Linked DNA regions of Homo sapiens: all the other regions are linked to region 1. The links come from fine-mapping of genetic effects on gene expression. A gene starts in region 1. Each other region holds a variant in brackets. All regions are shown on one strand. Distances are between the middles of the regions. Region 1 holds the start of PPCDC (phosphopantothenoylcysteine decarboxylase). Region 2 has its middle 45 kb from the start of C15orf39. Region 3 has its middle 35 kb from the start of PPCDC. Region 4 has its middle 6.9 kb from the start of RPP25.

Evidence for each region.
Region 2: its variant is fine-mapped to the expression of PPCDC in whole blood (TOPMed, PIP above 0.99).
Region 3: its variant is fine-mapped to the expression of PPCDC in whole blood (TOPMed, PIP above 0.99).
Region 4: its variant is fine-mapped to the expression of PPCDC in esophagus muscle (GTEx, PIP 0.99).

What each region holds. Positions count from the first base shown.
Region 1 is chr15:75,022,234-75,024,917 of GRCh38, reverse strand. PPCDC (phosphopantothenoylcysteine decarboxylase) reads right to left here and starts at 1,328. Exons shown (of 6, transcript NM_021823.5): 1 at 1,292-1,328.
Region 2 is chr15:75,155,933-75,158,616 of GRCh38, reverse strand. No RefSeq gene overlaps it. Among named protein-coding and RNA genes, the nearest start is that of C15orf39, 45 kb to the left of the region's middle. RefSeq lists enhancers at 1-416, 1,122-1,621, 1,622-2,123. The variant G/A (reference allele first, on the strand shown) is at 983.
Region 3 is chr15:75,056,906-75,059,589 of GRCh38, reverse strand. No RefSeq gene overlaps it. Among named protein-coding and RNA genes, the nearest start is that of PPCDC, 35 kb to the right of the region's middle. The variant C/T (reference allele first, on the strand shown) is at 1,360.
Region 4 is chr15:74,948,544-74,951,227 of GRCh38, reverse strand. No RefSeq gene overlaps it. Among named protein-coding and RNA genes, the nearest start is that of RPP25, 6.9 kb to the left of the region's middle. RefSeq lists an enhancer at 492-541. The variant T/G (reference allele first, on the strand shown) is at 1,528.

The sequences.
Region 1 (2,684 bases):
AAAAAAAGTGTGTAGCTATTTACATAGCATTTACACTGTATCAGGTTTTATAAGTAATCTAGAGATTATTTAAATTATATGGAGGGCGTGGTGGCACGTGCCTGCAGTCCCAGCTACCTGGGAGGCTGAGGTGGGAGGATTATCTGAGCCCAGGGAGTTCGAAGATGCAGTGAGCTATGATTGCACCACTACACTCCAGCCTGGGAGACAAGAGTGAGACCCTGACTCAAAAAAAAAAAAAGAAAAGAAAAAAGAGTATACAGGAGGGTGATGTGGTGGCTCACACCTGTAATCCCAGCATTTTGAGAGGCCAAGGAAGGAGGATAGCTTGAGCCAGGAGTTTGAGACCAGCCTGGGCAACATGGTGAGACCCTGTCTCTACAAAAATGAAATAAAATAAAAATTAGCCGGGTATGGTTGTTTATGCCTGTGGTTCCAGCTACACAGGAGGCTGAGGCAGGAGGATCCCTTGAGCCCAGGAGGTCGAGGCTGCAGTGAGCCATGTTCCTGCCACTGCACTCCAGCCTGGGTCACAGAATGAGACCTTGTCTCAAAAAAAAAAAGTATACAGCAATCCCCTGCGGATACTGAGGGATAAATGTATCTAACACACACACTCACACACGTGGGCTACTAGAAAGGCAGTGACTGCGAATTGCTACTTCCCAGCCACTGTGAGAGATGTGGAAACCCCTGCTCCAGGACAACCACCACTTCCCCAACTTGGCAACCTCTCCTGCTCACCATCTAGCACCTGCTTCCAAATACTTCAAGGACAGCAGGAAGTTCTTTTCTGACAAGATTTGGCCTAATTTTTAAATAGCACTCAGCACTTTTTGGCAGGCCTAGGGCTACTTCCAACATCCCATGGCTTTCCTTTTTTAATTTTACCAACTTTTTAAATACACTTTGTACTTTGGGCAGCCCGGGTAAGCGTTCAGTGTGAGGAGCTGACACGGCCATCATTTAAACTAGATTAAACGACACTGGACAAATAATCGCAGAGCAGCACAAAGTCGGGCTGGACGGGTACAGATGCAAACCCTCCACTCAGGGCTCGGGGGTCCCTCCTGCTCCAGGCGGCCCCACCCGTACAGCCGGGAAAGTGAGGTCGCACAGATGGACGGCCGCCTACCCACGCACAGTCGCAAACAGAGCTTCATGGGCACACAGGGGAAAATAAGGACACACACAGACAGCCGTGGACCCACGCTCGCGGACACAGCTCCCCGAACCTCCCCTCCCGCGCCGCCGCGAGAACCCAGCTTCCCAGCCCCCTTCCACTGCTCACCCGCGCCAGGCGCGTCTCGGGGCCGCTCCCAAATATCGCGGTATCTCTGCCGCTCTCCCGCGGAATCTGACTGGCACGCCTCACGAGAGCACCGGGCTGGCTGTATGTCGCGCAGCCTTCTGGGAGCTGTAGTCCACTTCTCTGCCTTCCGGGAGTTGTAGTCCACTGGGGAAATCCTGGAGCAAACCCTGGCCCTGTTCTTTGTATTGCTGGGACTCTCGATAGGGGCTGGCATAACTGTCCGACCTCCTTTCCTCACTCCTATCAGCCCCACACACACTGCTTGTTGCTTGGGGCCTTTTTTTTTTTTTTTTTTTTTTTGCTGTTGTCCCAGGTTTATTGAAAATATTACAGTATCTCAAAAAGATTCAAACAGCTTCCACGTGGCGTTTTGAAATTCATCCCCACTGTTGGCTGAGTGACCTGCAGGTTGGACAGACTGCCAAAGTCCAAAAACATCAGCATTTCCTTAATGTCAGGATATGTTAATACTTCAATGATTTCCTGATCCAGGGCTGAGACCTCAGGAACATGATTATCTCTCCTTTCTCTCTTCTCCTCCTGCAACTTGATGCAGATACCTCTCACTGAGCGCTTCAAATCAGCTTCATCACATGCATGTTGTAGCCTGCTATCTTGTTGGGGAGCTGTTTTTTTTTTTGTTTTTTTTTTTTTTTTTGAGACAGGGTCTGGCTCTGTCACCCAGACTGGAGTGCGCAGTGGTGCTATCTCCACTCACTGCAACCTCCACCTTTTGGGCTTAAGCCATCCTCCTATCTCAGCCTATGGAGTAGCCAGGACTACAGGAGTGCACCATCATGCCAGACTAATGTTTGTATTTTTTGTAGAGACGGGTTCTCACTCTATTGCCCAGGCTGGTCTCAAACTCCTAGGCTCAAACAATCCGCCCACCTTGGCCTCCCAAAGTGCTGGGACTACAGGAGTGAGCCACCACGCTCGGCCCTGGGGAGCATTTTGCTGGAAATAATGGTGATCTCCTTGCACATGTGTTGTTTGTGTGGAAGTTGCTGCCCGGGTGTGTGTATTACTTTTTTATGACGAAGTATAGAAAAGGGCTATCTTCATGGTATTAGTGTGAATGGGGCCCATGTTGGCAGGTCCTTAGTAAAAGAGGGCTCGTGGCACTTAATATTTACCAAGCCTCTTCTATTTTAGGTGCACAGGATACAGAGATAAATCAGATGCGTCCCTGTTCTTGAGACAAACAGGGACACAGAAAATGACAGGGTAAGATCCTCCATGAGGAAGCAACACCTCTAGGCAGGAAAGCCTTCTTGAAGGAGTGACTTGAAATGAATCTTGAAGGACAGCCAGGAGGTTAGATAGAGGATCCCAATAGCGATCCAGGTGGAAGGCATCAAATGGGCAAAGG
Region 2 (2,684 bases), 130 kb before region 1:
GGCGAGAGGGGAAGGTCTATTGTCAGACATCAGCCACTTTACCCCAGCAGCAAGCCGCGGCCCTCAGAAGGGCCGCCTCACCCACCTGGGTCCAAAAGGCACTAGAGGTAGGCAGCGTCCAGCCCTGAAGAGTCTGAGGGAGACAGGGGTGTCCTAATCCAATGCTAGGCACAGTTGGCATCTGACCCCAGTCCTGCCTTCACCTGGCTGTGAGAAGGGGTTGAGTCAGGGGACCAGCCGAGATGGAAATGTGGCTGGAGGAAGAAGCTAAGGGCAAACTACTGATGCCCAGAGGCGGGTATTCCTGAAAGTGGGACGCGCAGGTGACCCCCAGGCTCCACTTCCCCATCCCCCACCCCCCAGCCATCTCAGACAGGCCAGCTGGGATTTGGGGACAGGATACATTTCCTGGTCATCCTTCCAGAGTAGGTAGGGTCCTATCCCTTTAGCTGGGGACCTTCCGGAAGCCCTGGCAGTCCTGATGATGGGCTACTCTCTACTTGCACTCCTCCAGTGACAAAGAACTCATTAGCTCCCCCAAAACACCTTATCACTGGCCCCTGGCTCTGCTGAGAGGAAGTCTGTAGTCCTTCTTCTTTTCATTTTTTATTTTTTGAGACAGGATCTTGCTCTGTCACTCAGGCTGCAGTGCAGTGGTGTAATCTCAGCTTACTGCAACCTCCACCTCCTGGGTTCAAGCACTTCTCGTACCTCAGCCTCCCAAGCAGCTGGGACTACAGGTGTGCGCCACCATACCCAGCTAATTTTTGTATTTTTTGTAGAGATGGGTTTTCACCATGTTGTCCAGGCTGGTCTCAAACTCCTGGGCTCAAGTGATCCAGCCGCCTTGGCCTCCCAAAGTGCTGGGATTACAGGGGTGAGCCACCATGGCTGGCCCTTCTTGTTTTTGTTTTTTTGTTTTTTGTTTTTTGAGACGGAGTCTCGCTCTGTTGCCCAGGCTGGAGTGCAGTGGCGCCATCTC[G/A]GCTCACTGCAAGCTCTGCCTCCTGGGTTCACGCCATTCTCCTGCCTCAGACTCCTGAGTAGCTGGGACTACAGGCGCCCACCACTATGCCCAGCTAATTTTTTTTGTATTTTTTTTTTTTTAGTAGAGACGGGGTTTCACCATGTTAGCCAGGATGGTCTTGATCTCCTGACCTCGTGATTCTCCCGCCTTGGCCTCCCAAAGTGCTGGGATTACAGGTGTGAGCCACCGCACCCGGCCTGGCCCTTCTTATTGAGCTGGAATCTGCCTCCCTGGAACCTTACCCCATTAGCTGACATAGCCCCAGACACTGTTCCAGGTGTGGGGTCAGTGGTGTGGTGTCTGCCCTAGCAATTCTGGCTCATGATCCAGTCCTTCCAGCTTCCCCAGGCCACTGCCTCTCAGTTCCACCTCCAAAATCTGTTTTTGTTTTTGTTTTTGTTTTAATGACCTAATACTCTCTGGGGGGCAGTGAGCTACCCATCACTGGAGGGATGCAAGCCAAGGCTGGAGGCCTGACCATTAGAGGTCTTCTAGGGGTTGGGTGGAAGCTGAGTCTCGATCCTCCTGGGGGTTTCCCGGCCCTGGGAAAGGTGGCAGGGGAGATGTGGGAGGCAAGGAGTTTGGGCTCACTCCACACCCTGGGAGGTGAGACTCAGAATCGCCAGCCAGCTATGTCGTCTTTGTTTTTTCCTTTCCCAAACAAAGGTGACCTCTTGAAAGCAATGCCCCGCCCACCAGGTGCCAGGGTGGGGTCTGTCCCATGAGCTCAGGCCTTCCAGACATGCAGAGAATGGAATGCAGAAGGCGCAGCCTAGACTAATTGGGGAGCACCCCCCATCCACACATTGTAGCTCTAGCTCAGTACCTCCCAAGACATAGGGGGATGCTCGCCCTACACTTGGTTTGCCCCCATCCTGCCCTCATGGGGCTACAGACCACCCCAACCCCACCCGAGTACCAGAAGAGGCCAATGAGCAGGGCCCCCCCTCCTGAGGACCATAAACAGTGACCCAGGCACAGAGGGAGTGTAGTGAATTCCTGTACTTTAATGTTGCCCTGGCATCCGTTTTGAATATAATCTGGACTTTCTTACATTAGAAGCAGGGCTCAGTCAACCTTGACACTGTTTCCAGCTCCCTGCTTCCTCCCAGTTCCTCTATGTGCTCAATCCAGATATCTACCTTAGACAGTCATCTCCCGGTGACTGCCTCCCTGTGGGACAGCTACATACAGCCCACTTGACTGGTCCCGCTGACCCCACAGCCCGCATGGACTGTTGCAGATAGGCCAGTGACCCTCTCTCAGCCATAGCGTGACCCTGCTTGCTCTAAACTCACCAATTATTTTATTTTATTTTATTTTATTTTATTTTATTTTATTTATTTATTTTTGAGATGGAGTCTCGCTCTGTCACCCAGGCTGGAGTGCAGTGGCGCAATCCTGGCTCACTGCAAGCTCCGCCTCCCGGGTTCAAGCCATTCTCCTGCCTCAGCCTCCTGAGTAGCTGGGACTACAGGTGCGCACCACCACGCCCAGCTAATTTTTGTATTTTTAGTAGAGACGGGGTTTCACAATGTTTTCCAGGATGGTCTCAATCTCTTGACCTCGTGATCCACCCGCCTCGGCCTCCCAAAGTACAGGCGTGAGCCACCGGCACCTGGCCTAAACCCAATTATTACTCCCCTCAGGAAACCTGCCT
Region 3 (2,684 bases), 35 kb before region 1:
TTGAGATGGAGTCTCACTCTGTCGCCCAGGCTAGAGTGCAGTGGCACGATCTCGGCTCACTGCAACCTCTGCCTCCCGGGTTCAAGCAATTCTCTGCCTCAGCCTCCTGAGCAGCTGGGATTACAGGCACTCGCCACCACGCCCAGCTAATTTTTTATTTTTAGTAGAGACGGGGTTTCGCCGTCTTGGCCAGGTGGGTCTTGAACGCCTGACCTTGTGATTCATCTGCCTTGGCCTCCCAAAGTACTGGGATTATAGGTGTGAGCCACCACACCTGGCCAAAAAAATTTTTTAATTAAAAAAATTTTATGTCTGGTCAGGACCTAGTTAAAGTTAAAAAACTTTCTTTTTTTTAATTTTAAAGAGAGGGCCGGGTGCAGTGGCTCACACCTGTAATCCCAGCACTTTGGGAGGCCGAGGCGGGTGGATCACGAGGTCAGGAGATCGAGACCATCCTGGCTAACACGGTGAAACCCCGTCTCTACTAAAAATACAACAAAAATTAGCCAGGCGTGGCGGCCGGTGTCTGTAGTCCAGCTACTTCGGGAGGCTGAGGCAGGAGAATGGCATGAACCCAGAAGGCGGAGCTAGCAGTGAGCCAAGATAGCGCCACTGCACTCCAGCCTGGGCGACAGAGCGAGACTCCATCTCAAAAAAAAAAGAAAATTTAAAGAGAGAAAGAAAGGATCTTCAGCATCCATGTGTTCATGTTCAACTCATGTTGGCTGCTTCCAAGTCCATCGCTATGGCTGGTAACATTGTTTTGCCTACACAGATGGAAGGCACCTTTTAATTCACCTTTGAACACTCCTTCCTCTTCCAGGAATCCAGAGGCCTGAAAGGGAGTCTGCTGGGCCTCCAGTCCCTAAGGACCTGCTGTCTAGGCTAGCAGGCAAAGCATCACCATGTAATCTCAGCAGATAAAGCCACCATGAAATGAGCCCATTGCAGCAAGGGAACGACACATGCTCCCAGATTCCACCTGGATTAGCTGCATGTCCTCCAAAAGCCCTGAAGCTCACATATCTGCCTCTTGTCCTCACACCCACCCACTCCCCACATTCCTTTGCTATGAGACAACTGGTAGTTCTTCTGGCCTGATCATTCCCATTGCCTTGCCGCAAGGGGTACCAAACCTGGCTTAAATATTGTAGAATATTTGGTTCCACCAGGAAGCTCTCAGTGTAAACAACTTGTCAGTTATTGGGGTTGATTTCTTTGCTCAGAGGCAGTTGCGTGACACTTAGGATTTTCATCCTGCCCTAGAAACCACAATACATGAAGGAAGGAAGCCATGAGCAGAAAAAGGTAATGAAGGAGCTGTCCAGTTGGGACTGAAAGGGCAGGCATCTGGGGATG[C/T]TGATGTATGGTGGAAGGGGTGTTTCAACTGACCCCAAGGAGGTAAATGCAAATAAGGGTAGAAGTCCTGTGCAGGAGCCTGTTTGCAGGTAGCTGTAGGGCAGAAAGAGAAAACCCTAGCACACTGCACTGGCTGTGCGGCCCTCAGTTTCTTGTCTATGAAACAGCTACATATGCTAATTGACTCCATCGTGAAGCTGTTATGTGAGGAGGGTGAAATGAGATTAAAGAAACACTTGGCAATATGGAGAACATGTAACACGTACCCATAACCCAAGTCTTATCTAGGGCTCCACACAGTTCAGTCCTGCTCAGCTGCACTCAGAGAATCACACATTGCAAAGGGCTTTAAAAAGAACCTCAATCACAATTGCTGCAGTGAGCTGAGATTGCGCCACTGCACTCCAGCCTGGCGACAGAGCAAGATTCCATCTCAAAAAAAAAAAAAAAAAACCTTGGCCAGGCGCGGTGGCTCACGCCTGTAATCCCAGCACTTTGAGAGGCTGAGGTGGGCAGATCACAAGGTCAGGAAATCGAGACCATCCTGGTTAACACGGTGAAATGCCATCTCTACTAAAAATACAAAAAATTAGCTGGGCGTGGTGGTGGGTGCCTGTAGTCCCAGCTACTTAGGAGGCTGAGACAGGAGAATGGTGTGAACCCGGGAGGCGGAGCTTGCAGTGAGCCGAGATCGCGCCCCTGCACTCCAGCCTGGGCGACAGAGCGAGACTCTGGCTCAAAAAAAAAAAAACAAAAAGATTCCTTCACTCCTCCATTTGTTCCCATCTTCCCAGTTCTGTATCTCAATCTGTTTTTCTTTTTTTTTTTTTGTTTGAGACGGAGTCTTGCTCTTGTCATCCAGGTTGGAGTGCAATGGCACGATCTCGGTTCACTGTAACCTCTGCCTCCCAGGTTCAAGTGATTCTCCTGCCTCAGCCTCCCGAGTAGCTGGGATTACAGGCGCCTGCCACCACCCAGCTAATTTTCGTATTTTTTAAGTAGAGACAGGGTTTTGCCATGTTGGCCAGGCTGGTCTCAAACTCCTGACCTTGTGATCCACCCGCCTTGGTCTCCCAAAGTGCTGGGATTACAGGCGTGAGCCACCACCAATCTGTTTTTCTAATCCCACACCACAAAGTGCCCAGGAACCACAGAACAGATTGTTTTTGTTTTGTTTTGTTTTTTGAGATGGAGTCTCATTCTACTGCCCAGGCCGGAGTGCAGTGGTACGATCTCAGCTCACTGCAACCTCTTCCTCCCCGGTTCAAGCAATTCTCCTGCCTCAGCCTCCTGAGTAGCTGGGATTACAGGCATGCACCACCACA
Region 4 (2,684 bases), 74 kb after region 1:
TGGATAGAGGAGATGGCAGAGGGTAACGTGTAGAGATGCAGGTGAACTAGAGTGCTAGGTGGGAGCCAGGTCACAGGGAAGTGAGGGAGCCGGTGGGAGCCAGGTCACAGGGAAGTGAGGGAGCCACTGGGAGCCAGGGAGTGCTCTGAGCCCAGATCTGACTGGTGTTTGAGAAGGATCCCTCTGACACCTGTGTAAGTGGGAGTGGATTGGAAGGGGGTCTGATTAGACCCTAGAGACAATGCAGGGATAAGAGATGAGACATCGGCAATGCGGAGGGAGATGGGAGCAGATGTGAGAGCTACCCAGGCTAGGTAGGATTTCACTGCTATTACAGCCAGGAAATGGGAGGGTTCTCCTTGAGCATTAACCCTGCCTGGCCAGGACTTGGTCTGCCTTTCTGGCACCCCAGGGGACGTGCTATGTCAGGACCAAACAATGGAGTGATTATTTTTTGTGGGAGGTGGGAGTACCCAGCTTCAAATTGGTAAATCTTTAAGAGCTGTTGTCCATTGCCATGAATCTGCCAGAGTGTATTCACTTCACTGTTAGGTGCATACCTGGGCCAGACACACACACTGCCTACCCCCACCACCCCTTGCCCTTCATCTCCCAAGCTGATTAGTTCAGTTTTGGTCATTGCTATGCCCACACTGACCACTAGGTGATGCTCTCGTCCCTCTATTTCACTGAGATGTTGAAACACTCGCAGGTCTCCAAGAGAATGGTAGTTAGAAAGGCAAAGGAAAGGAAGGAAGGGAAGGAGAATGAAAGAGGAGGAAAATGCAGCCACAGGAGGGTCTCCTCAAAGGCATCAAGTTTCTTCCTTTCAGAGCACAGATACTGGTTTATAAGTGTGTCCTCATTAGTCTTATCTTTTGGCTATTGGTCACCCTACTAACCCATGAGCCCGTGATTGACTGGATCCTGCCTGCCTTGCTCCTTGCCCAGCTCCTGGCACATGAGAAGCTCTTAGAGAGTTGTTGATTGAATGGACTTGCCGCTGGCCAGGCACAGTGGGTCATGCCTGTAATCTCAGCATTTTGGGAGGCCAAGGTAGGAGCGCTGATCACTTGAGCCCAGGAGTTCCGAGTCTAGCCCTGGCAACATAGTGAGATACCATCTCTACAAAAAAAAAAAAAAAAAAAAAAAAAAAAAATTAAATAGTTGGATGTGGTGGTGTGTGCCTGCAGTTCAGTTACTCAGGAGACTGAGGTGGGAGGATTGCTTGAGTCTGGGAGGTCCAGTCTGCAGTGAGCCATGATCACTCCACTCTTTCAAACCAACAAAAGACTTTCTGAGCCAGGTTTCTGAACTGTTCTGATGTCACATTACAATTCTTAACCATCCAACCAATGGCCAAAGCTGCCCCTATCTCTTCCACAGCTTCTCATCCCATCTGAGCCCTTGGGTACCCCTGCCTTTGGAGAAGCTAGGGTCACCATGGCAATTGGGTTTGTATATTCAGCTTGAGGATTCCAGTGTTGTTTCTGACACCTGAATATTATAGGTGCTATGAATTGAATT[T/G]CGTGCCCCCCCACCAAGACATGTTGAAGTCCTAATCCCTGATACCTTATTTGGAAACTCTGGCTTGGCATGGTGGCTCATGCCTGTAATCAATCCCAGCACTTTGGAAGGCCGAGGCAGGTGGATCACCTGAGGTCAGGAGTTTGAGACCAGCCTGGCCAACATTGTGAAACCCCATCTCTTCAAAAATACAAAAATTGGCCAGGCGTGGTAACTTATGCCTGTAATCCCAGCTATTCAAGAGGCTAAGGCAGGAGAATGACTTGAACCCAGGAGGTGGAAGTTGCAGTGAGCCACCAGATTGTGCTACTGCACTCCAGCCTGGGTGACAGTGAGACTCTGTCTCGAAAAAAAAAAAGGAAAAAAGGCTGGGCACGGTGGCTCACGCCTGTAATCCTAGCACTTTGGGAGGCCGAGGCGGGTGGATCACCTGAGGCTGGGAGTTCGAGACCCGCCTAACCAACATGGAGAAACCCTGTCTCTACTAAAAATACAAAATTAGCCGGGCATGGTGGTGCATGCCTGTAATTCCAGCTACTCGGGAAGCTGAGGCAGGAGAATCCCTTGAACCTGGGAGGTGGAGGTTGCAGTGAGCCAAGGTCAAGCCATTGCACTCCAGCCTGGGGAACAAGAGCGAAATTCTGTCTCAAAAAAAGAAAAAGAAAAGAGATTCAGCAGATTTAATAAAGATCTAAATTAAGAAATTAGGATGAGGTCATATTAAGTAAAATGGGCCCTTAATCCAATACAATTTAATTCAATGAGGAATCCTTATAAAATAGAGAAGAGACAGAGATTGATTACACAGAGGGAAGAATACCATGTGAATATGGAGGCAGAGGTTGGATTTATACACCTGCAAGCCAAGGAAGGTTGCAAATGACAGAAGCTAAGAGAAAGGCATGGAACAGATACTTCCCTAGAGTCTTCAGAGAGCATGGCCCTGCCCCACTTGATCTCAGACTTCTAATCTCCAGAACTGTTAGACAATAATTTTTTTTCTCTATGCTTTTTTCTTTTCTTTTTCTGCGATGGAGTTTCGCTTTTGTTGCCCAGGCTGGAGTAAAATGGCGCGATCTTGGTTCACTGCAACCTCCACTCCCAGGTTCAGGTGATTCTCCTGCCTCAGCCTCCTGAGTAGCTGGGATTACAGGCAC